2 separate regions of the Homo sapiens genome follow, and region 1 is linked to region 2. A link means that fine-mapping ties the variant in region 2 to the expression of a gene that starts in the linked region. Tissue or cell type: whole blood. Region 2 holds a variant in brackets; the other region holds the start of a gene. All regions are shown on one strand. Distances are between the middles of the regions.

Region 1 (14,976 bases), 47 kb after region 2:
TATACAAAAATTAGCTGGGCGTGGTGGCAGGAACCTGTAATCCCAGCCACTAGGGAGGCTGAGGCAGGAGAATCCCTTGAACCTGGGAGGCGGAGGTTGCAGTAAGCTGAGATCATACCACTGCACTCCAGCCTGGTTGAGGACAGAGTAAGACTCCATCTCAAAAAAAATAAAATAAAATAAGGCCAGGCGCAGTGGCTCTCACCTGTAATCCGAGCACTTTGGGAGGCCAAGGCAGGTGGATCGCCTGAGATCGGGAGTTCAAGACCAGCCTGACCAACATGGCAAAACCCTATCTCTACTAAAAATACAAAATTAGCTGGGGTGGTGGCACGCGACTATAATCCCAGCTACTCAGGAGGCTGAGGCAGGAGAATCGCTTGAACCCGGGAGGCGGAGGTTGCAGTGAGCTGAGATAGCACGATTGCACTCCAGCCTGGGCGACAGAGCGAAATAAATAAATAAATAAATAAATAAATAAATAAATAAATAAAAATAAAAAATAAAGTGGTAGCGCAAAGCCCTTTGCCTTGGGCTCTGCTTGTTTAGGAACCTATGCTAAGACAGCCTGTAGCTGAAAGTCCAGGTAAAGTTGATTCAAGGGCTGCTCAAAAGGCTGTTTCCAGGACTTGGTTTTTCTTGGTTTTACCTGGGTTAGCTACATTCTCTGACAGGCTCTCTCCTTTTGGTACTAAGATGGCCCTGGGAGCCTCAACAATGAATACTTCCAGGTTCATATTTCATGGGAAAGAGTCCTTATCCCAAGACCTCAGACAGAAGTCCCAGAATTGAGTTATTGGCTCTGATCAGCCATCCCTAAACCCATCACAGTAGTTAGGAGAATGTGATGCTTTCGCTGGCTTTTGCCTTGTCAAGAGTCTCACTGGAAGCTCCTGGATGAAGGGTGGGAGAGGTATAGGTTCTCACACAAAAATCGCAAGTCTCACTAGAAGCTCCTGGATGAAGGGTGGGAGAGGTATAGGTTCTCACACAAAAATCGCAACTGTTGCTGGAAGAAAGGGGAACAGATGTTGTCTAGGCTAACAACAAGGAAAGGTGGAAGTAATCAACCCTCCTGGTACCACAGTAGAATTTTCTACAGAAAGGTTTTAGTTTTTTCAGAAACCGTAAGTTTTTTTTACTTAATACCTTGCCACATAATCTTTTATTTTTTCTTTTCTTTTCTTTTTCTTTTTTTTTTTTTTTGTGACAGAGTCTCGTTCTGTCACCCAGGCTGTAGTGCAGTGGCATGATCTCGGCTCTCTGCAACCTCCATCTCCTGGGTTCAAGCAATTCTCATGCCTCAGCCTCCCAAGTAGCTGGAACTACAGGCACGCACCACAACAGCTGGCTACTTTTTGTATTTTTAGTAGAGATGGGATTTTACCATCTTGGCCAGGCTGGTCTCAAACTCCTGGCCTCAAGTGATTCATCCACCTCAGGCTCCCAAATTGTTGGGATGACAGGCCTGAGCCACCGCGCCCGGCCAAAACTTTTCCTTTTGTTCCCAAGTGGATAGAAGTATTGGTCTCCAGGTGGGGTCTGTATCTTCCTTAAAAGACAGTAAGTATTTCTTCTTCAGAACAACCAAACAATTGAAGAATATTCCATTGGGTGATAAAACTACGTCTAGCAATTGAACACACATTGGCAGGGCAATTCCTAAGTATCAAGTAATGTACTATGCTCTGGGGCATTTAGAGATAAATAAAATGTGCTCCAAACAGAATTCCAATAATGTCATTTCCCAACTGAAAAATCACCCAACATCTTCCCGTCTGTTAAAGGCAAAATTCCAGATTTCCTCCCTTGGTAATCTGGCCTCTGCCTACCAACCAGCCTCCTCTCTAGATTCTCACCTCTGAACCATCCACAGCAGCCACTCTGAGCCACTTACCCTTCCTCAAATATTCTGTGTTCTTTCATTGGATTAAGCAGCGACCTAGCAAAGCCATCAGTCAATACTGATTGACTGCAAGGCACTATAAAGCTCGTGTAAAGGTACATGCTTTCTGCTCTTAAAAAGCTTGGAATCCAACAAAGGCTAGGACATAAACACACGGAAGGCTAAATAAACTAATAATTAAATAATAATATAAAACATCAAGCCATGGGATTCTGAGAGGTTTTTTGAAGGTGAAAAGGACTGAGTTGGCAACACTGTATCTGACAGAAGAGAGTGTTAATAATACTTGTTTGTAGTTTAAAAGCAATTTCACATGTATTTTTACTTGAGCTGAATCAAATGGTACTTGAATTTCTGCCAGATGTAAGAAGCAGAGAAGGAAGAGAAGGAGGAGAGGAGGAGGAGAAAGTAGGGAAGGAGGGGAAGAGGGAGGGGGAGAGGAAGGAAGAAAATATTCACATTTATGGGGGGCTTGACGGTTCATAGAGCGTTTTCACAGGTGTCACCTCAATTGATTCTCACACAACTCTGAGGGTAATTATTGCTTCTAATTATTTATAAGATGAGGGCTGAGACTCAGAGTAGCCATACCCAACTAATACCAGGTGGCAAGACCCAAACACAAATTCTCTAATTTTGAATTCATAATTTTTCTTCTCTGCTCCACTGCAGCTGAGATAGGAAGTGGGGGCCATGTTAGGATATCCAATGTTAATACAATGGGCAAAGTCTTAAAAGTCAAAAGGAAATATTTGAAGTAGTTATTAGTAAACAGTGTGAAATGTGACAGAAAGGTCAAGAAGACAGAGGCCTAAGTAAAAATGATTAGAACTGTTTTTGTTTGTTTGTTTGTTTTTGAGAAAAGGTCTTGCTCTGTCACCCAGGCTGGAGTGCTATGGAATGATCACTTGCCGCTTGGAACTCCTGGGCTCAAGGGATACTCCCACCTCAAACCTCCTTAGTAGCTGGGACTACGGGTGCTTGCCACTACACCCTACTAATATTTTTATTTTTTTTGTAGAGACAGGGGTCTCGCTATGTTGCCCAGGCTGGTCTCAACCTCATGGCCTCAAATGATCCTCTCTCCCATCTCAGCCTCCCAAAGTGCTAGGCTTATAGGTACCACTGTACCTGGCTTGCTTTTTTTTTTTTTTTAAGCATTTATGGATAACCCAGGAGTTAGTCAGGACCTTATAAAGTGAAACAGTAGATTGAAAAGCAAGGTTCTAGGCATCAAAATCACATGTTTAAAATGTTTGGGCAAGTTCTAGAGTGAGGTTTATGACCAGGATCCTCTTCAGCCACGTATCTGTACACAATATGCAAGATACTCATACAAATTGAAGCAAAACACAAAGACCTCTAAGAGAAACATGGAGAAAAGGCATAGATAAAAAATTTATAAAAACAGTAGTACAACGAGCTGACAAACATGTCAAACTCTATTCATCCTACATGTAATCAAAGAAATAAAAATTAAACAACAGATATCATTTTACCTACCAAATTAGCCAAGGATAGAAAAAAATTTTTTAGTAGGCAACGCTGGCTAAAAATGTAGTGATTTTGCAGTGCGTATCCTCTGGGAAGGTAAAAAAGTACAATCTCTCTGGAAGGTGGATTGTCATTATGTTACCAGCCTTAAAAAATATTCCTTCTCTTCCACTCGCTAAGTTTGCTTATAGAATCTAGCTCAGGGAAATAGAGAGGTAGCTAAAGATTTACATATAAAAATGCCTGTTAAATATGTTTGTTTTTAATACAGAAACATTTTCAACAACTTAGATGCCCAGCGATGGTTAAATAAATTATTCTAAATCCATAGAGTAGAATATAATATGCAGTCATTAAAAATGATGATTGTGACAAATGCTTAATGTCAGGAGAAAATAGGAAAAATGTAATGTTAAGTGAACTGCAGGATAGAAAATTGCGTGTGTGATAGAAACTCATTCAGAAAGAAATGGAGCAAGATGGTTAGCACTGCATGGAGAGATTAAAGATGATTGCTATTTTCTTCTTTATTTCTATGTGTTCCAAATTTGCTATAATGAGCATTTCCAGGTTTTATAATGAGAAAGAAGCCCTGATATTTTAGATTAGAGGAAAAATTTATTTTGGCTTTTTTGAAAATCAAGTTCAGGTTTCCTTAAAAGATGTAAAATTAGTGTTTTTGCTGGAAATACTTCAGCTGCAAGTCATGGAACACTTAATGTCGGTTAAAAAGTGGACCAGACCTAGGCAGTGACTAGCATTGGTGAGAACCCCTGTCCCTGTGATTAACTTGCGTTTTATTCATGGTTTATTCAGTAGGAGCTGCTGCAGCTCCTGCCATGAGATCCATGTTCAAGGCAGGAAGAAGAGAGAAGTGACCCAGTGGTGATTTTTAAAAATGGCCTCAAATTCTTTGACACTCCTCCATGAGAGGTGGTGGTTATGTCCCCTCCCCTTGAATCTGGCTGGTGGTTACTTTGACCATTAGGGTGTAATGGAAGTGGTGCATTGTGACTTATGAGACTGGGTCATAAAAGGCCATGCAGCTTCCTTGGTGGCAGCTTCCATGGTGGCAGCTTCCATGGTGGCCAGGCATGGTAGCTCATGCCTGTAATCCCACTGCTTTGGGAGGCCAAGGCAGGAGGATTGTTTGAGGCCAGGAGTTTGAGACCAGCCTGGGCAACACAGCAAGACCCTATCTCTAGAAAAAACTTGAAAAAAATGGTTTTAATTTTTAAAAAGTTCACTCTCCAGAAACTGCTCTGCTTCCTCTCAACTGCCACGCTGTAAGAAGCCCAAACCACAGGGGAAATTCAGAGGCCATGTGGAAACGCTCCAAACAACAGTGCCAACTAAGCCCAGCCCTTGAGTCACTGCAGCCCAGGTGCTAGACATGTGCTTTGAAAAAGCTTCCAGGTCCATGCTGTCCAATTCAGAAGCTGCTGTCCACATGTGATTATTTAAATCTAAATTTCATTAAAACTAAATTAAAGTAAAAATTCAGTTCCTCAGTCACACTGGCCACATTTCAAGTGCTCAAGAGCCGCATGTGGCTATTATATTTGACAGCACGGATATGGCATATTCCCATCACTGGAGGAAGTTCTGTTAGACCTGCTTCAGATGATACTTGAGCATTTGAGCCTTTCCAGCTGAGGTTCCAGACACTATGGAGCAGTGATAAGCTATCCATCCCCTTGTGCCCTGTCTGAATTTTTTTTTTTTTTTAAGACGGAATCTCTCTCTGTCACCCAGGCTGGAGTGCAGTGATGCTATCTTGGCTCACTGCAACCTTTGCCTCCTGGGTTCAAGTCATTCTCCTGCCTCAGCTTCCTGAGTAGCTGGGATTACAGGCACAAACCACCATGCCTGGCTAATTTTTTTGTATTTTTAGTAGAGAGGGGGTTTTGCTATGTTGGCCAGGCTGGTCTCGAACTCCTAACCTCAAGTGGTCCGCCCTCCTTGGCCTCCCAAAGTGCTGGGATTACAGGTGTGAGCCACCAGGCCAAGCCTGAATTTCTTACCTACAGGATCCAAGGGTATAATAAAATTGACCTTTTGTGCCACAGTAAATGCGTGTTTTGGATAGTTTTTCATGCAGCAATAGTAACTAGAACAAACCTCTCTGATAGGAAAAGCATAGCACCCTCAGAAACCATCCCAGCTGACTTCTGTTTACATCTTATCTGCAGAACAGTGTCACAGTGCCACCTCTACTGCAATGAAGCCTGGGAAAACATGCATTTAGCTCTTCTAGCCTCTTTAGTCAGGAAGAAAAGGGAATGAGGATGGGGCATGGGAAACGGGTGAGCTGGCAACAGTGTCTGCCACAATTGGTTATATATATAAAATCACATTCTATTTTAGTAAGCAGAGCTGCATAATAACATATGCAACCCATGCTTTAAATGTATTTAAAGTACTCTAATAACATTTGCTCTCAGAGTACTTTATATAAATGTTCTTTGTACTTAGAATGTCATGAACACCGTATCACTCCTAGAACCCGCACTATAATCTCTTTACTGAAATCAAAATCTTCCTCCTCGGCTAATGGAAAGAAATTGCAAGATTTGGTTTGGATTTTGTTCATCAAGATAATAGAAAGTGAGCAAATTATAAGGAAACATTCTCCTATCAGACCACGTTGCTTTAGTAGGCTTGTTCAACATTATCTAGTTATCTTTTAATTACAAATGTCTGTGTGCCAGTGTCTTCTGGAGACTATATAGCCCTCCACTACAAACCCATGTGAAAAGCCACAGGAAACCACACTGAGGTTTCCTCAGACGTAACTGGATTGCCTTTTTTTGAGAAATGTTTAGAAGAGAACTGGTTTACTTGGTTTTCAATAACTCAATGACTAGAGCATGATTTAAAAAATTAATTTTAGGCCAGGCATAGTGGCTCACGCCTGTAATCCCTGCAGTTCAAGACCAGCCTGGCCAACACGGTGAAACCCTGTCTCTACAAAAATACAAAAATTAGCTGGGCATGATAGCGGGTGCCTGTAATCCCAGCTACTCGGGAGGCTGAGGTGGAAGAATCACTTGAACCCGGGAGGCTGCAGTGAGCTGCACTCCAGCCTGGGCGCAGAGCGAGACTCTGTCTCAAAAAAAATTAATAATAATTTTAAAATGTGTGTGCTATGATTTATGTTGCATGACCGTTTAAAAAGAAATAAATAAAAATCACAATAAGAACATTATGGGGTTTTTTTGTTGTTGTTAGTTTGAGACAAGGCCTCCCTCTGTTGCTCAGGCTGGAGTGCAGTGGCACGATCACTGCTCACTGCAGCCTCGACCTCCTGGTCTCAAGAGATCCTCCTGCCTCGGCCTTCCAAGTAGCTGGAACTACAGGTGTGCGCCACCACGCCCGGCTAATTTTTAAAAAATAAAAGAAAATAAAATAGAAACGGCCTCGCTATGCTGTATAGGCTGGTCTCCACCTCCTTGTCTCAAGAGATTCTCCCACCTCAGCCTTCCAAGTAGCTGGGACTACAGGTGTGCATCACCACTCCCGCCTTTTTTTTTTTTTTAAATAAAATAGAGATAGGGGTCTCACTGTGTTGCATAGGCTGATCTCGAACTCCTCGGCTCAAGGGATCCTCCCGCCTCAAGCCTCCTAAAATGCTGGCATTACGAGCATGTGAGCCACCTTGCCCTGCCTGTCTTATTTTCAAATAAAGGTAAAAGGTTGATTCCTTAGAAGTGAAATGAGTCGGCCGGGTGCGGTGGCTCATGCCTGTAATCCCAACACTTTGGGAGGCCGAGGCGGGCGGATCACGAGGTCAAGAGATAGAGACCATCCTGGCCAACATGGTGAAACCCCATCTCTACTAAAAATACAAAAGTTAGCTGGGAGTGGTGGCGCATGCCTGTAGTCCCAGCTACTTGGGAGGCTGAGGCAGGAGAATCACTTGAACCCGGAAGGCAGAGGTTGCAGTGAGCCAAGACTGTGCCACTGCACTCCAGCCTGGCGACAGAGTGAGACTCTGTCTCAAAAAAAAAAAAAAAAAAAAAAAAGAAGTAAAATGAGTATTAATAATTATACACCATGTGATAGCTATTCTCCTGTAACCCTTTCTCAATTTACAAGGAAGCATATTAAGAATTAGAAAACTTAGGATGTCTCTATCTCAGAAATCAAGGTGTTGCATGTGTGTGTTCTTGTGTGGATTAGGTAATAATTCAAGGCACTTTCAAGAACTGTATTTTATGAAGATATTGGAAGTTATTTTTTACCAAACGATTACCTTTATTGTAAGGGCCCACTGGGAATTGTGTAGAATGTAGGGATGTGAAAGGCAAAGGCTGTAGTTTCTAGTGACTGTTATTTGCTCAGAGAGAGGAATACCTCTTGATTGTGATACACTTGGAGCCTAATATCAAATTCTTTTTTCCTCCATAAGTCTAATTCCCTGCACAATTAGCAGTTAGCCCTCCACTCCCCTGCACAATTCCAAAGTAAATGTTAGATAATAATAAGCCATATGCAGAACTTGGATAAAGAACATTTTATACCTCGTGACTGGCAATGTTCAGAGATGTGAATCAGTTTTCCCTTTTATTTGCAATCCATATATATGTATTTTTTTTCTTTTTTGAAACGAAGTTTTGCTCCTGTTGCCTAGGCTGGAGTGCAATGGCGCGATCCCAGCTCACCGCAACCTCCGCCTCCCGGGTTCAAGTGATTCTCCTGCCTCAGCCTCCCGAGTAGCTGGGATTACAGGCATGCGCCACCATGCCAGGCTAATTTTGTATTTTTAGTAGAGACAGGGTTTCTCCATGTTGGTCAAGCTGATCTCGAGCTCCCGACCTCAGATGATCCACCCACCTTGGCCTCCCAAAGTACTGGGATTACAGGCGAGAGCCACCGCGCCCTGACTTGCAATCTGTATTTGAAGAACAGCTGCAGTATATATGTTAGGAACATTGAGTTTTAAGGGCGGAATATTTTATTTATTTATTTTTTTGAGAGAGAGTCTCGCTCTGTCGGCCAGCAGGAGTGCAGTGGCACGATCGCGGCGCACTGCAACCTCCATCTCCCAGGCTCAAGCAATTCTCCTGCCTCAGCCTCCCAAGTAGCTGGGATTACAGGCGTGTGCCACTACACCCGGCTAATTTTTGTATTTTCAGTAGAGACGGGGTTTCACCGTGTTGGCCAGGCTGGTCTCAAATTCCTGAGCTCAGGTAATCTGCCTGCCTCAGCCTCCCAAAGTGCTGGGATTACAGGCGTAAGCCACTGCTCCCAGCCAAGTGTGGAATTTTTTTTTAATTGAAGGAGACATTAGATATGATCTAATTCAACCCTTTTTATAGGTGAGAAAACTAAAAGTTTATTGAAACTGGTGTGAAACTCAGACCTCCCAGTACCCACCCTTCATTGCTTTTTCCAGTATGCCATGGGGCCTCCGTGTGTGTTGTTTGTGTGGTGTGTGTGTGTGTGTTTATATTTGGTCAGACATCTTCTTACACTCCTAGGCCAAGCAGCAATAACTCATAAATTTTTGACATCTACATTTCTGACTTAAAAATGCTTTTAATGCTACTGATATTTAATCAGTACCTATCAGATGACTGCTCTCATATTTCAAATCTGGAATTACAGATTGAAGACATTCAGAAAAGAGAACTTGTCCCTTCTCTTTAGAGAATTATTGAAAAGTACAGATAAGTTTGACAAAATTACAATTCATCTATCTTTAGACATTTTAGTCTCAGCCATGCCTAATATGCCCCCCCAATATAAAATTACTAATCAAGACACATGGTCCCGCAGTTCTAGATGTTTGGTACAGTACCATTATTTGCCTAATGGTAAAAGAAGTTGTGCTTCTAGAACACGTGAAAAATGAAGTGTTTCTTTTGGTAAGGCATTCCAAGGATATCCTGTCTAGTTTCTTGAAATTTCTGTGCTTAATTAGAAAACTAAAAATAACTCACTTTTATTACAGATGGACTTGTCATTACAGAAAACCAAAAACAAACAAATAAAAAAAGAAAACTGAACAAATCATTTATATTTGACGCTTTGATGACATTTCAATGCAGAGGAAGGGACATTTTAATTTAAATGCTTTCACAGTTTTGCCATACTTTCACATTTCAATTCCACTCCTGTTTGCAACTAAAAAACCCAAACACTCAAAAAAAAAAAAAAATCACATTAATCAGAATTTAAGGAGTCACTTAGTAAAACTATGTTTTAGGAATCTGTACAATAAACATGAAATCAGTCACCTGACCACTCCCCACCCTCAGCCCATTCCACAAACCCATCTTCCCACCCCTTCTCCTACGCATTGAGCCTTCAGAAATACCCTTTCTCAGTGCGGTTCCTTCTAAAAAGGAGAGGCGGGAGAGTCAGGGTGGAGAAGGCGGCTCCAACCAGATTTTGCGTCCACAAAGCCAAAAGCTTCTAGGCCTGGCATGTACGGCGGGTTTGTGCCCGAGGAGCACAGCTGGTCTACACGGGCCCGCCCCGTAGACACCCTACTCCTCGGTGAGCTGCGGTTTAACTTCCTTATAGCAGGTTGAGAGTGCAGGCCCCAACGTTTGGAGGGGAAGGCGGCGCCCCAACTGGTGTTTTTCCAGGAAGTGCTCCAAGAATGGAGAGGAGAGGGGAAAGGGGAAAGGGGAAGGCCAGGCGATGGGCGTTTCATTCATTGCTTCTTTCTCCCCGTCCCCTCCTTCGCTCCCCCCAGACTTTCCCCTTTTCCCAGTCCGAGTTTGACGTCGGTCTCCTGGATACCAGGCAGCCAATCGCCTCGTTGCGAAGGGACCAGCGCAGCCAATCAGGCGTCGTTGCTACCTGTGAGTAATATTTTTAGCTGAGAGGGACGCTCGATTCCACTCCCGATGTAATTTCGTGTATTTCTCTGGGGCAGGTTGTGAAAAAGGCACTTACCCGCCCCCCACCACGAGTCCCTCTCTTACCCCACTCCCTAGGTACCCGCACATATTTCAGCCAAGAATGATCTTAAACGCGCTTTACAAGCAGGCACCGCGTTTATTCTGTGCACCTGCGATCCAGCAAGCCCTAGAAATGCACGCATGCGTGTGTGTGTAGACATGGACACAGATACATACGCAGTTTGGCCTCGTGTCGCCACACTCTGGGCACGGCGTGGGCTGGGACATTTGGAATAAACGGATCCGAGTCGCAGCCGGGGTCGCACCGGGAGGCCTGAGGCTGCGGAAGCAGTTAAACTGCCGGCGGGGCGGGAGCTGTGGCGGCCTCCCTTCCCCACCCCCAGCCCGGCTCCACGTCTTTGGGTTCTGCAGCTGCCACTCTCTGGGTGGCGGTTGGCCTAGGCCTTGGGGTGATTAATATTCAATTAATCGGGTGCACAAGTCCCGGTCACAGTTTGCCCTTTCTCTACCCCGCCCCTGGGGTGGGCTGGAGGCCGATTTGGTAGCTATTCCACGAGCAGGATCCTCCTTGGCCGCAGACCCCCGCGGAGAGGGCACTTTCTGGGTACTCTTGCCGCTCCTCCAGCCCCGGTTCTCCTGAGCCGCTTCGCCACCAGCTTCGTCCCCCTCCCCCTCTGCCCGGCGCTCTCCGCCTAAACCGGGCGTCAGCCGCCCTACCCCACCCCTTTCTCTCTCATTGGCACGTCTGCCCCCACAGTCCCTTTCCAGACGTTCTCTTCATTCCGTCCCCAGTGCTCCGATCGTCGGTTCATTGGCCCTCCTGGAGCCCGGAGGGTGCGGCTTCCCCACCCCTGCGTCCGCCGCGCGTCCGGACAGGGGCAGGCGGGACTTGGCCAATGGCGTCGGGGGGCAGGGCAGGGGCGGAGCCGGCCGGCGGGGGACCGGGGTGCCGGGCGGGGAGCGCGGGGAATGGCTGCGCCGCCGGAGCTGTGTGACGCGGAGCGGGCGCGCGCACCCCGACGGAGGGGATGGGGGCGGGGAGGAGGCCATAAAACGAGAGGCGGGGCGCGCGCCGCGGCAGAAGGAGCGAAGCTCTGGCCCGGCGTGTAGCGGGCGCACTACGGGGACGCTGGGCCGGGCACCGGGCTGTGTGGAGAAGTGAGCGCGCTCGTCTGACCCCCGTGCCCGCCACCCCGAGCCACTAACGGCGATCTCCCAAGGCCTGCCCGAGGCCTCTGTCCTCTGTCCTCAGCCCCGCAGCGGCAACGTCTTGCACTCGGCGAGCTCGCCGCTCCCGACCCTCCCGCGCCCCCGCCCTGCCGCGCTGCTCCCCGCCCAGCCGCGGGTCTGTGGTCCAAGCCGCCCCGAAGCAGCCCGTAAGTATCTCGGGGCGCCGGGCGGGGTCGGCGAGGAGACGGGAGCCCCGGGCCCAGGCGGCGGAGGAGGGGCTGCAGCGGCGTCGAGCCCTGGGCCCTCGGGAGCTCGGGGACGGCGGGGTCGCGGCCCTGGGCGCCGAGGGGGCAGCGCCAGGACCCGAGGGGAGCGGCTCCGAGGGGCCGCCGGCGCGTCGGGCTCGTCCTGGGCAGTTGGCCGGGGACGGGCGGCCCGGGGCGAGCTGACGGGAATTGGGGGGTTGGGGTGCCCGGAGGAGCGACGAGCTCGCGGTGGAACGCTGGGGTTCGAGGGGCCGGTGGCCGCGAGGCTGAAAATGGTGCCGAGGAACCGGTGCTCCCCCAGGCTCTGGCCGGCTCCCAGGAGCCCGGGGCGGGGGCCACGGGGCGGGGAGCAGCGGGTCGGGTTACGGCGGGGGAGGGGAGCGGCTGACCCGGCGCCCCGACCTGCTCGGTGCTGGGTGCCCAGCCGGGAGAGGTTGCTCTTCCATTTCCCGGGCCTTCCTCCTCCTTCTCCGAGGAGGCTCGTACTCTCTTCCTCCTCCACCTCCACCTCCTCTTGCTGTTGCTGCTGCTGTAGCGCTTGGGCTCCGAGGGCTGTGAGCAGAAATCTAATGAGATCTAACTGGCTGTTTATGTAATTCTTCACACTCCTGCCTGTCTTAAGGCGTTGCTTTGTAACTACCTTCCACCGAGCCTGAATTTCGCTCGGCTGCACCTTCAAGCAATTGGGCTTAATCAGCTGCCTCTGCCGGCACTCAGGCTTTTGACTTGGAAAGTGTTTGTAGTTTGGGGGCAGCCAGAGATTCTTTTTCCCTTTGTCACCACGAATATGGAAAATAGAACAGACGAATTAAGACCAACTTGATTTTTAAACGTACTTTTAAATCAACTTCAGTGTGCAAATAGATCCCTTTCGCAAATATCTTCTGTTTGCCCTTGATCTTTTCTTATCCCCACCCAGTGCTGATCCAGCAAACGTTTAAAGGTCGACCTTACCATACTTGCCTCTCCGGCTGTTACCGTGAGAGGGAGGGAGGGAGAGAGGGACAGACGGAGGTTTTTTAAAATCAGACTAAAACTCAGAAACCCTGGCCTTAAACAGAATAATCAATAGTTTTAATTTGTGTCTTTGCTTTTGTTATACTTGCTGCCGAATAGGTATTTTCAGATTTAGAAAAATACACATTGAAAACAAAAGGCCCAGAGAAGCTGGATTTTATTATATTGTATGCTCTTAGTATACTTAAGGCCGAAACTATATAGAATAATTTGGTTCATAATTATTTACTAGGATGAAGTTCATTTAGTACTCAGTGTCTTTAATTTTAGCATCATGTACTATGGAAATTAAAATGATCTTCCTAACGTAACCAAATTTTTAAATGTCAGTGACAGAGCAGATTTAAACAGTATATATCCAAAGTAAACTAAAACATGGATTCACTTCTAAGTTGGTGAATAACAATAAAAATTACTACCTAAAAGTGGCATCTATATATATGGGGGTGGGGGGAGGATGCTGAGTACAATAAATATTCTTGTGAGAACTGAGGAGAGAAGAATGCATGTTCTAGAGATTTTTCTTCTTAGAACTCTATTCAGAAACAGGTTTTTAAAAGCATTATTTCATTTGTAAATCTACATTTTCCTGTGTCATTTTAAACTTTAATAAACGATTTTCTATTTTATGTTTATTTTGTGCTAGTAACAGTTTTCAGGCTTTCTGTCCTAGTAGACATTTTCTTTTTCTTTTTATCCTTAGCAGACTAACACAGGATCTTAGACATTTTGAAAGGTGAAATTACTTTGGAGGGGGGAAGGTCATGGGACTTATATTACATTTATCTTATTTGGATATGTTTGCTTTTGTTTTAAGGAACAAGATCACTCAAGGTGAAGGATAATCTACTAATACCAGCACTTTGAATGAAAATTTGTTTCTCTGCCACAAACTGAACATCTTTTTTTTTTTTTTTTTTTTTTGGTGGGGGAGTTGAAACCTAATTTTGTGGCGTAGCAGCTATGCAGCTTGAAATCCAAGTAGCACTAAATTTTATTATTTCGTATTTGTACAATAAGCTTCCCAGGAGACGTGTCAACATTTTTGGTGAAGAACTTGAAAGACTTCTTAAGAAGAAATATGAAGGGCACTGGTATCCTGAAAAGCCATACAAAGGATCGGGGTTTAGATGTATACACATAGGGGAGAAAGTGGACCCAGTGATTGAACAAGCATCCAAAGAGAGTGGTTTGGACATTGATGATGTTCGTGGCAATCTGCCACAGGATCTTAGTGTTTGGATCGACCCATTTGAGGTTTCTTACCAAATTGGTGAAAAGGGACCAGTGAAGGTGCTTTACGTGGATGATAATAATGAAAATGGATGTGAGTTGGATAAGGAGATCAAAAACAGCTTTAACCCAGAGGCCCAGGTTTTTATGCCCATAAGTGACCCAGCCTCATCAGTGTCCAGCTCTCCATCGCCTCCTTTTGGTCACTCTGCTGCTGTAAGCCCTACCTTCATGCCCCGGTCCACTCAGCCTTTAACCTTTACCACTGCCACTTTTGCTGCCACCAAGTTCGGCTCTACCAAAATGAAGAATAGTGGCCGTAGCAACAAGGTTGCACGTACTTCTCCCATCAACCTCGGCTTGAATGTGAATGACCTCTTGAAGCAGAAAGCCATCTCTTCCTCAATGCACTCTCTGTATGGGCTTGGCTTGGGTAGCCAGCAGCAGCCACAGCAACAGCAGCAGCCAGCCCAGCCGCCACCGCCACCACCACCACCACAGCAGCAACAACAGCAGAAAACCTCTGCTCTTTCTCCTAATGCCAAGGAATTTATTTTTCCTAATATGCAGGGTCAAGGTAGTAGTACCAATGGAATGTTCCCAGGTGACAGCCCCCTTAACCTCAGTCCTCTCCAGTACAGTAATGCCTTTGATGTGTTTGCAGCCTATGGAGGCCTCAATGAGAAATCTTTTGTAGATGGCTTGAATTTTAGCTTAAATAACATGCAGTATTCTAACCAGCAATTCCAGCCTGTTATGGCTAACTAAAAAAAAGAAAATGTATCGTACAAGTTAAAATGCACGGGCCCAAGGGGGATTTTTTTTTTCACCTCCTTGAGAATTTTTTTTTTTAAGCTTATAGTAAGGATACATTCAAGCTTGGTTAAAAAAATAATAATAAAACATGCATCATTTTTCATTTGCCAACCAAGCACAAAGTTATTTTATACTGACTGTATATTTTAAAGTATACTCTCAGATATGGCCTCTTACAGTATTTAAGATATAGCAAGGA
Region 2 (11,330 bases):
TGCAGCCTGTGTGGGGGAATTCAGGAGCAGAGAGTGCTTCCCACCCAGATCGTAAAGGAGAGGATACTTTACAACTCTGCAGTGTGGAGAGGATTTCCAACCCCATAAGGGAGCACGGCCAGCTTGTGCATTTATCCACATGCCCAACAATGTTTACTGAGTGTTTCCTCCTCTGTGGCCTGTGGGCCAGTCATCACATTTAATTCCCCCAACAGCCTGTGCAAGAGGCATTATTGTTCCACATTGGGGTCCCTCTCCTTGAGACAACCAGCACCCCCATCTCTTCTCCTCTGCTTCCCAGCCTGGCTGGGCCGGGGAGGAGGTTATAAGGCCCATGGTGGATGTTACCCATTCATTGCCTTCTGGTCCTGTGGTTGTTATGGACTCTGGCTGGGGTCAGAGTCTCCAGGGGCCCCCTGGGCCCAGGCTCTCCACCCAGGCAGCCTCACCCAGCCTGCACAGGTGGGGCCAGGCAATTTATCGACTGATCTGGGTGTGCCCCTGTAGGGAGGAGAAGGCATGGACCAGCTGACCTCTGCCCCATCCTCCAGACCCAGAGGCTGTAGACAACGAGCTTTCCTTAAGAGGCTCTCAACAAATACTCAGGCTTGCCAGGGCTCCTCTGCTTATAAAAATTCCATCTTACAGCATAGAAAGTTTGGAAAGCGCAGCAAATGTATATAAAAGTCACCTAAAAGGCCACCAGCTAGCGATGACCATTGTCAGCATTCAGGAGTATGCCTCCTCTTCATCCCAAAGTCAAACATGAACTACGACTAGGTTGTGACTAGGTTGTACTCTTCTACAATGGGGACACAGGGGTCACAGTTATTCCATTGTTTGTCTTTTATTAATTCTCCTCCATCCTTGGCTTGTTTGGGGACTTTAAAAAAAAAACCGCTTCCTATTACATAGCACAGACTTCAGGAAATACTTGTTCAATGAAGGGACAGGCAGGGCCTGGTCATGTTGGGACTGGAACCCTGGCTGGCTTTAGGTGTGCCCAGCACAAGCTGAACCCCAACACCATTCACCATCCAACCATTCCTGGCATCCCTGGCATGAGGTTAGTTCTCACCAGCTCTCAGTGGAGGTCACTAGTGTTTGTTGACCTTAGTAAGGGAGATTCACAGCTGGGCATGGTGCCTGTAACCCCAACACTTTGGGAGACCAAGGCAGGAGGATCACTCAAGCCTAAGGGTTGGAGACGAGCCTGGGAAACATAGGAAGACCCTCTCTCTACAAAAAAATTTACAGATTAGCTGGGCCTGGTGGTGGGCACTTGTGGTCCCAGCTGCTTGGGAGGCTGAGGTAGGAGGATCGCTTGAGCCCGGGAGGCTGAGGCTGCAGTGAGCTGTGATGGTGCCACAGCACTCCAGCCCAAGTGACTGAGCGGGACCCTGTCTCAAAAAAAATCAATCAATAAATAAATGAGAAATAAAGGAGATGCAGGTGGAGAGGGAGGGGCCTGGATCCTGGGGCTGTGGCATCAGGCAGAGTCTCAGCTTCAGAGTCAGCGGGCAAAATAGGGCCCCGGGGCTGAAGGGTAGGGTTCCTTCCCCTTGAGCCCTCAGAGAGGTTGTTAAGAAAGAGAGAGGCCAAGCGCAGTGGCTCACACCTGTAATCCCAGCACTTTGGGAGGCTGAGGCAGGCAGATCACCTGAGGTCAGGAATTTGAGACGAGCCTGGCCAACATGGTGAAACCCTGTCTGAACTAAAAATACAAAAACTATCTATCTGAGTGTGGTTGTGCACACCTGCAACCCCAACTACTAGGGAGGCCGAGGCAGGAGAATCACTTGAACCTGGGAGGCAGAGGTTGCAGTGAGCAGAGATTGTGCCACTGGGCTTCAGGCTGGGCAACAGAGCAAGACTCAAAAAAAAGAAAAGAAAAGAAAGAAAGAAAGAGAGAGACAGTTCTTAAGGAATCAGGCTTCAGAGAAAGCAGAAGTGTGGAGGACGGACACAGGAAGGCTGTCGGTTGTAAGAGGAGGCTCTGCAACATCGCCAGCAAAGGCGACCGAATTTCTCTTCCCGGAAACTTCCAAGAAGGGGGCATCTCCGTGGACTGGGTCAGAGACCACCTATCCCTGGGCGAGGGGAGGAAGCAGAGGCTTCAGGAGCTCTTTCAGGGAGCACGGAGGCCAGGGCAGCCTGCAGGACAGAGGAGGGTGTGGCTGGAGGGCCGAGGTGGCTGGAGGACAGGAGAGACTTTGGCCAGGGCATTGGTTTTCCTTACTAGGCTGGGCAGGCTTTCTAAGCCTCTGCAGGCAGCCAGTTTGGGGAGGGGCCTGGGCTTGGAGATTCTCGCTTGGCTCAATCCCCTCTTAGATCCGGGAGCTCGTGGGAGGCTTCGGACAGAGCTGGCCCACTCTGCAAAGGTACTTTAGGATTCTTCCTGGAAAACCAGCAAGAGGAGGAAGCGAACACTGCCAGGCCACAGGCCCAGCTTGGATGGCGAGGAGGCTACAGCGTTAGAATCTGGACTCAGCCACATCTATGCCGAGTGACCGTGGGCAAGCAGAGATTTAACCTCTCTGAGTTTCAGCGTCTTCCTCTGGGAAATGAGGATTTTTTTAAAAAACCACACAAAAAATTTTCTTCTGTCCCCTTCTCCCACTCAAGGTTGCTGTGAGGATTATAATGCAAGAGCAAATAAGCAGAAGGGGGCTGGGTGCAGTGGCTCACGCCTGTAATCCCAGCACTTTGGGAGGCTGAGGCAGGCGGATCATTTGAGGTCAGGAGTTAGAGACCAGCCTGGCCAACATGGTGAAACCCTGTCTCTACTAAAAATACAAAAATTAGCCAGGCATGGTGGCACACACCTGTAGTCCCAGCTACTCGGGAGGCTGAGGCAGGAGAATTGCTTGAACCCGGGAGGCAGAGGTTGCAGTGAGCTGAGATCGCGCTTCTGCACTCCAGCCTGGGGAACAGAGTGAGACTCTGTCGGAAAAAAAAAGAAAGAAAGAAAGAAAGAAAATAGGCAGAAGGGCCTGCCTGGCATAGCTAGGTGCTCAATAAATGTTATTCTTCCCTGAAGGTGTCCTCGGAATTGGTGGCATACGCGAATTGCCTTGGGGGTTTGTTTAAACTGCTGACTCCTCTCCACCCCGGCCCAGCAGGTCTGCCTTTTTCACAACACCCAGGCCCAGGTGATTCTTAGGCAGCAGGACCCCAAAATAGCACCAAAGACGCCAAAAGGCTGTTGCCAGATGGGGGTCCTAAGCAGGTGTGTGGGTAACCCCCTGCCCACCGACTCTCACGCCTTAGGCCACCAGCCTGCAGCCCCTCCCTCCCACAAGCACCGTGGGCCCTGTTGTGAGCTGCCAGTTGCAGTGTGGGTTTTTGTCTGCCTTCCCCACCCCATGCCAACCCGCCCAGCAGGCCCCACTGCCTTGGCAACGCATTGCAAAGTCCACACAAAGGGAAACTGCGCTGGGGAGGCTGGTCCTGCCCGACGCCCGGGGAAGGGTTTCCATGGCAATGCTGACATCACCAGGCTCTGGCGGCTGCAGTCAGGCCCTGCATGAAGGCGCCTGGCTGTTCACACCACAACGACCTTGGAGGAGGGCGACCCAGGGCTCTGCACCGATGCCGGGGGGCGGAGAGGGCCTGCCCCTGGGTTCGAAACCCAGCCCTACCCCTGACTGGCCAGGTGACTTTGAGCAAGACACAGGGTCTGTCTGAGTCTAAGTCTCTTCACCTATAAAAGAGAACTAATGATCTTTACCTTGCAGTGAGGAGGAAATGAAATCATGGCTACTGTGCAGGGATGGGTAAACTGTAAAGGCTGGGGAGCACCCTGAGCCCCGTGACTGCTGGGCC[C/T]CTGGGTGTGGGATCCAGAAGGAGAGGCTGGGATTCGGGGAGGAGAAGGCACAGTTATCCAACAACCTCCCCTGCGCCTCCTCTCACTGGGGAGGAGGAGAGGTATTTGGGGAGATGTGTTATTTGGGGAAGAGAGTCATGGGATGGGGAGACATTGGGGCTGGATGGTGGCTTGGATTTTCCGGTCTCACACCCTCAGCTCAAGGATGAGGATTCAGAGGCCCAGGAAGCAGCTGTGACACAGGCCCAAGCTCATATCCCTGCATTAGGATGGAGCCAGGGTGCAGGGGGTATGGGCAAGGGTCCCCTGTGCCCCAAGGGTGGGCCCTCTGGGTGGAGCCATCTCTGTTCTCAGTGGCAGTAACACTGACTCCTCTGCAGGAAATAAACAGTCAGAAGCACAAGGCGGGAGAGGGTGGGACCTTCTGAGATCAGTGAAGCTGTAGGTTGGAGTCCACCCACGGTGTGCTGGGCAGGAGGAGAGCCGGGCAGCGGGGAGCTTGGAAAGGCCTCGAAGGCTTCCTCTCTGCTGCTGTCCCTAGGAGGCTCTCTGAAGGCTCTGCCTTTTCCCAGCTTTGGCTAGGGGCCCCCACCCCACCCCACCCCACATGGTGAGGGTCTCCCTAGGCCTTAGCCACATGGCTTGGGGCAATTCCAGGAGGAGGCCTCAGGTGTCCACAGAGCTTTCTGCCTAGCCAGCTCACCCCCACCACCAGCTTGTCCCCTCCTGTCTGTCCTCTGTCAGGATCTGGGACCTGCCGCAGGCTCTTTATCTCCAAGGGAATTGCTGGGGACTGTCCCCACTCAGTGTCCCAGCCAGGGTCTTACTGTGCCCTGGTGCCCCATTCTGCCAGACTTTGTCCAACTTCCACCCAGACGTCTGTGTCCCACCCTCCCTGGGCCCAAGTGACCCCTCTGGGCTCTTGGCTCCCTTTGCGGGAAGGTGGACCTCCCACCACAACAGCGGTCACTCGTCAGTCCAGAGGGAGGCTTCCATGAGGTTGAGACGGCCATTCTGACCTGAAGTTCCCCTCCCGCGGCAGGAAAGCTGCAGGCCGTCATTCTGCTTCCTCTCCCTGGGGAAGTCGCCCTCCTTCACCTCTGGGGCCAGGGAAGGGGCCCGCTGCCTGGGAGGGGAGGGCAAGTGCTGTCCTCAAAGCTGCAGTCAGGTCACGGGGAAGAGAGGAAGCCATGGGGCTGCCATGTTAGGCAGTGAGGGCTTGCTGGCACTTGCGCGCGCCCGCCTCTGAGTCCCTGGCACCTATGCCCCTCTTGGCCACAGCCTCACTTGTACTTACCCTGCTGAGGCCTCCGGCTCAGCTGGACTGTGACGTGCCATTGTTTGGCTTCGAACCGGTTCTGTAAGGGTGGCCCCAGTCCAGTGTCCTGGGGTGGCAGAGCCACCCATCGGGGTGCCCTGGAGAAGCCAGGCATCTGGAGCAGGAGGTCTGGAAGGCGGGGGGAGGAGGAATGTCCCTGCTGAGATAGAGGTCCAAGGACCCCCTCCAGAAGCCCACACTTTGTGCCCACACAAGGAGCACAAGGAGCCTCAGTGGCTTCTCGAAGCTGCCTGGCTCCATGAAAGGATGGTGGCTGGCCTTGGGCTCTGCGGGGATCAGCCACGTCCTTTCCCTTTGCCTCCAAGACAGAGGAATTGGGTTAAAGGTTGGAACCACCTGGGAGGACACTTCCCTACTCACCAGGTACTGGGCTTTCCAAGGCTGCATCCTCTGCCCCCTCCCCTCAGGGCTGTAGACCCCGGGTCCTAGGCCTAGCGTCCCTCCCTGAAAGTATTTGGGGACGAGCCCAGCTGGCTCGGCCACCTGCTCTGGCTGAATAATGGGCATGCTGGCCTAGGCCTTCAGACACCCTGGATGGGCGGTGGGGGACCCAATTCGTGACTCTGACTTGAGTGTGCTCAACCCAGCACTGATTTACATAACATGGTTTTGCATGAAAAACAAGCCAGCATGCAGTGTGGGGAGGGCCCCAGCTGTGGCCTGCTGTGGGCAGCTGTCCTTGGCCGGCCTCCCCTGTGGCCCTGGCTCCTGCCTTCCCCTGACCTCTGCAGATTCCTCAATAAAGAATCTCCCACCCCAGCGCAGCATTGAGTGGCCTCGATGGGTGAGCACAGGAGCCAACCACGATGGCGAGGATGCCAGACTCCCTCCTGGGGAAATCCTGGGGTCTTCCATTCCTCTGAGGCTGAAATCACAGCACAGGGGCACAGGAAGCTGTGGCGGGGGGCCAGGGCGGGGCGGGGCGGAGCTGTTGAGCACCTACTGTGCATCAGGTCCTGCTCGAGCCTCTTTCATGCACATTGTGTCACTGCACCTTCACAAGACCTGCTGAGGAAGGTAGAGTCGTTTGGGGGTGCCAAGAAAGAAAGTGAGTCACTCTATGGGGCTTGGAGTGCCCTGGGTCTGTCTAATGGACACCTCACTTGCATTGCACGCCCTCTCTGCCTGGGAAGCATTGCCCACCCTGGGTGCCTGAGGGCTCACACACACTGTCTAGGAGCGGGTGAGCGAGGCTTCTTCCTCCCCGAGGTCTCCAAAAGCTGGAGAGAACTACCTCTGTCCATCTGGGATTGTGGGCTGGGGGTGGAGGTCTGCCAAACCAGGCCCAGAGGAAATAAAGAAAGGGCGGGTCGGAAGCCTCACTCTCGAAGCAGCTGTTAATTTCAAGAAAGGTCCTCCCAAATCCTTAGCCCCTGATCCATCTAACACTCAGCTCAGAAACATTATGTCCTGGGGTTCTTTCGCTGGAAACAGAGTCAGGCCTGGTATAAGCTTGGGAATCGCAGATAAGCTTGCATCTTGAGCTGGTGTCCAGCGGCCTGGTCTCCCTGGGCCTGACCAGCTGTGGAACTGGACAAGGCTCCTAATCTTGCTGACTCTGTTTCCTTGTCTGTAACTCTGTTTCCTTGTCTGTAACTAACACAGGGCAAGTAAAACCTGCTCTGCCTATTTTAGATGGTGGTTGTGGGAGCAGATGAGATCCTGTATGTCCAGCTCTAATCAGGCAGGCACTGAATAAAGGGAAGGGGTGATGTCTAAGGCCAGCAAGGACAGTCAACTCTCTTTGAAGAACCAGAGTTTCTTTCCATCCCCACCCCCAGCCTGCTCTGTCTCTTTGGCTCAGCCATATTGAGCCTAGTCTGAGTTAGGCCAGAAAGGCCAGTGACTCATAGTGACCTCACTCCTCTTTGTCTCAGTTTTTCCTCCTGTAAAATGGGCACAGCTGCTCTTGGTTAAGAAATCTGCCAATGAAAGGCCCTCAAAGGCTGTGTCACTCTGTTATTAACATCACCACTCCTCCTTGCTCTTACTCATCTGGCTAGGAAGACATGTGAAAGGGGAAGATTCTGGAATCTTATTAGAATAAAAATAAGGAAAATAAGTATTGCTTAGCCTGGGCAGCATAGCCAGACCCAGTCTCAAAAAAAAAAAAAAAAAAAAATTAGCCAGGCGTGGCATGTGTCTGTAGTCCTAGTACTTCTGGTACTTGGGAGGCTGAGGCTGAGGCTGGAGGATCACCTGAGCCTGGGAGTTCAAGGTTATAGTGAGCCGTAATCATGCCACTGTACTCCAGCCTGGGCAACAGGGTGAAACCTTGTGGGGGACAAAAAGGAAGAAAGAAAAGAAAAGAAAAAGAAAGAAAGAAAAAAGCCAGGCACAGTGGCTCATGCCTGTAATCCCAACACTTTGGGAGGCTGAGGCGGGTGGATCTCTTGAGGTCAGGAGTTTGAGACCAGCCTGGCCAACATGGTAAATCCCTGTTTCTACTAAAAATACAAAATTAGCTGGGCGTGGTGGTGGGCGCCTGTAATCCCAGCTACTCAAGAGGCTGAGGCAGGAGAATTGCTTGAACCTGGGAGGCAGAAGTTGTGGTGGGCCAGGATCGCGACACTGCACTCCAGCCTGGGTGACAGAGTGAGACTCTGTCTCAAAAGAGAGGAGAGGAGAGGAGAGGGGAGGGGAGGGGAGGGGAGGGAAGCATGGCTTGCAGTCCAATGCCCAGAGCTAGCTGGGCCTCACACGGCTTTTCCGGCCTAGCTGGTGGCCTGTGCCCTGTCACATTTCCACAAACAACTGAAGACAAGTTACCATTTAACCAGTCCATGGGAACTGGGGCCAAACTCTCTCCAAATGGCAAACCAGCAGGACCTGTTTGCTGGGGTGAAATAACCTCGCTGGACTTGGTACATAGCTGCCCTCCCACAACCCTCCTCCTGCCATGCCCAGCCCAGAAGGGTGACCCTGGCAGGTCTCCTGAACTTTCTGAGCTTGGGGCCTCATCAGTGGATGTGGGGGAAACGGTGACTGGGAGGAACCAGCAATGGGGCCCAGGGGAGAACACACACACATTCAGAGGGGTGAGCTGAGCCCCCCAAAACTCGACCAGAGGGGCCCAAGGCAATCCGCAGTGCATTGGAGAGTCAAGCTGCGATAGGAGAGGAAAGAGCAGTGAGTGATGGAGAGGAGGGGCCTCCCTCCACCCAGAGACCGCAGGCTGGGGGCATGGGAGCCAGAGAGGTGCAGATCCCTCCTCCTCCCTCGGCCCCTCACAGCCATCCCTGAGGCCAGGTTAACCATGAAAGGTCTCACCCATCTCAGGCTCCTCTTGAACCAGGGTTGGGTCTCAATTCTCTGGGACCCCCACATACCTGATACCCCAAAGGTAGAGTTGATACTTATTGAATAAATGCTCAGCTGCTGTCTGCTTCCTCAGAACTCCTGACCCTTGGTCAATTGAGCGCCTACATTCCTGAACTACCAGAGCAGGGAGATGGTCGGGGCGGTGGGGGGTCTTAGGGATTACCAAGTGTGTTGTGGGGAGGGAAAGTTACATTTTACTTGACCGTTTAAAAATATTCTATGCCTGGCTGGATGCGGTGGCTCACGCCTCTAATCCCAGCACTTTGGGAGGCCGAGGTGGGCTGATCACAAGGTCAGGAGTTCGAGACCAGCCTGACCAACATGGTGAAACCTCATCTCTACTAAAAATATAAAAATCAGCCGGGCTTGGTGGCACGTGCCTGTAGTCCCAGCTACTTGGGTGGCCGAGGCAGAAGAATCACTCGAAGCTGGGAGGTGGAGGTTGCAGTGAGCCAAGATTGCGCCAGTGCACTCCAGCCTGGGAGACAGAGCGAGACTCCGTCTAAAATAAATAAATAAATAAATAAATAAATAAATTCTATGCCTAAGGTGAGACCAGATTATATTTATTTGTCCTTCTTAAAGTTTCAAATTAAAGTTGTAAAATATTTCAAATATACAGAAAAGTACAGAGTAATATCTCAGCCACAAACCCACCACTAAATTTGGACACATGTAAATATTTCACTCTATTCTCTTTAGGTCTCTTTCAATCAAAAATTAAATTTTGGCAATAGAACGGAAGTGACATCCCTAGCCCATCCTTCTTCCTCCCTCATCAGAGGAGACCACTAACTTGAAACCAGCACATTTCCTATGCATGTTTTCATACTTTTACTATGTACACGGGCCCATAAGCAACCTACGGTGTCATTTGCAGGTTTAGAAAATTAGGTGTGAGGCCGGGACGGTGGCTCATGCCTGTAATCCCAGCACTTTGGGAGGCAGAGGCGGGTGGATCACCTGAGGTCAGGAGTTTGAGACCAGCCTGGCCAACATGGCAAAACCCTGTCTCTACTAAAACAAAAATTAGCCAGCATGATGGCAGGCGCCTGTAGTCCCAGCTATTCAGGAGGCTGAGGCAGGAGAATCGCTTGAACTGGGAGAGGGGCAGAGGTTGCAGTGAGCTGAGACTGCATTCCAGCCTGAGCGACACAGCAAGAGTCTGTCTCAAAAAAAAAAAAAAAAAAAAAAAAAAGGAAAAGAAAAGAAAGAAAGAAAGAAAGAAAAAAAAAAAAGAAAATTAGGTCTGAAAATGTGAGTTGCAGACTGATAGTGCCAGGTTTTCACCCTCTGTGCTCCAGGGCCTGGCCACTGAGTGATCTCCAGGCTGGGAGCTGGAGGCAGCAGCTCACAGTGCCTTGAGCAGCTCCACTCTCCTGTGATTTATACATGGGGGGTTCGGCATGAGATTGCCTTGGAAAAACAGGTTCCACAGTTTGAAAGTCACAAATCTAATGAAAATTCATCTGACAGAGAATGAGGCCAGTGCCCAGAGAGGGGAGGTAACTTGCTCCAGGTCACACAGCAGGCTGAGTGGCAGAGCCTTCTGATGCCCAGTCCAGGAGTCTTGCCTTCCCCACTGTCCAATAAGGAAACATAAATGGGCACCCCGACCCAAAGGATGATTTGCTCCTGGGTCAGGGAAAGGCAAAGGGGTCTGGACAGGGGCCTCTGAGGAGGCCTCTGACCTCCCCTGTGGGGAGTGGAGGGCACAAGGAAAGTGCCAGACCTGCACTCTCCAATATGGTAGCCATGGCCATGTGCCCATGGGCACTGGAACAGTTAGTCCACACTGAGATGTGCCACAAGAGTAAACTACATACCAACCAGATCTTGAAAATTTAGTATGAAAAAAGAATATAAAAGATCTCTTTACTTTTTAAATGGTTTATGTGTTGAAATTATAATATTCTAGACATATTGGGTTAAGCAAAATATATTCAAAAAATTAATTTTACCTGTTTCCTTGTTTTAAATGTGGCTATTAGAAAATACTATATTCTGGCTGGGTGCAGTGGCTCATGCCTATAATCCCAGCACTTTGGGAGGCCAAGGCAGGTGGATCACCTGAGGTCAGGAGTTTGAGACCAGCCTGGCCAACATGGTGAAACTCCGTCTCTACTAAAAATACAAAAATTAGCCAGGCATGGTGGTGCACGCCTGTAATCCCAGCTACTTGGGAGGCTGAGGCATGAGAATTGCTTGAACCCAGGAGGTAGAGGTTGCAGCAAGCAGTAAGCCGAGATCACGCCACTGCACTCCAGCCTGGGTGACAGAGCGAGACTCCATCTCAAAAAAAAAGAAAAAAGAAAATATTATATTCTATGTGTGGCTCGGGTTATATTTCTATTAGACCATGCTGCCCCAGATCTGATGCCCAGTGGCTGAGGCAAAGTAGCTAGACCACAGAGACAGGGACTAGAGGAGGACAGTACACAGGAGCCTTGAGCTGGAGGTGAGGGGTCTGTTTCCACAGGCCACATGTGGAGACTACATTTTGATCAGGAGCAGATAGAACAAATAAATGCCCTCCCCTTCCTACCTCCTAGGTCAGGGGCTTTTCTCTCTGGTCCTCCAGGATCCAAGCTTGCCCTTGTCTCTCTCCCAGAGAGCTAAGTGTGAATCAGAGCAGGCCCTCTCTGCTTGGTACTTGTACCTGCAGACCATCGGTCTGCACAGCCCTGGGGAAGGACAGTGCGGACACCCTTTCCCAGACAAGCTTTCCTTTTCTGCATGACAACAGGGGTTTCTGTTGCCCCCTTCCCTCCCCTTCCCTTCTGGTGGAGTTGAGCACTGCAGCTGGGCTCTTCCTGAGCCTCTACATCACTTGATCTCAGGGAA

Evidence for each region.
Region 1: TOB1 starts here. The variant in region 2 is fine-mapped to the expression of TOB1 in whole blood (TOPMed, PIP 0.95).

What each region holds. Positions count from the first base shown.
Region 1 is chr17:50,862,733-50,877,708 of GRCh38, reverse strand. TOB1 (transducer of ERBB2, 1) reads left to right here and starts at 11,355. Exons shown (of 2, transcript NM_005749.4): 1 at 11,355-11,651; 2 at 13,546-14,976. The coding sequence starts at 13,692. The coding sequence ends at 14,729. It overlaps TOB1-AS1 (TOB1 antisense RNA 1), which reads right to left and starts at 11,030. Exons shown (of 2, transcript NR_038458.1): 1 at 10,492-11,030; 2 at 9,338-10,213. RefSeq lists silencers at 11,020-11,529, 11,540-12,149 and an enhancer at 12,690-12,739.
Region 2 is chr17:50,911,990-50,923,319 of GRCh38, reverse strand. No RefSeq gene overlaps it. Among named protein-coding and RNA genes, the nearest start is that of TOB1-AS1, 51 kb to the right of the region's middle. RefSeq lists enhancers at 5,238-5,407, 4,665-5,584, 6,979-7,108 and a silencer at 6,031-6,090. The variant C/T (reference allele first, on the strand shown) is at 3,826.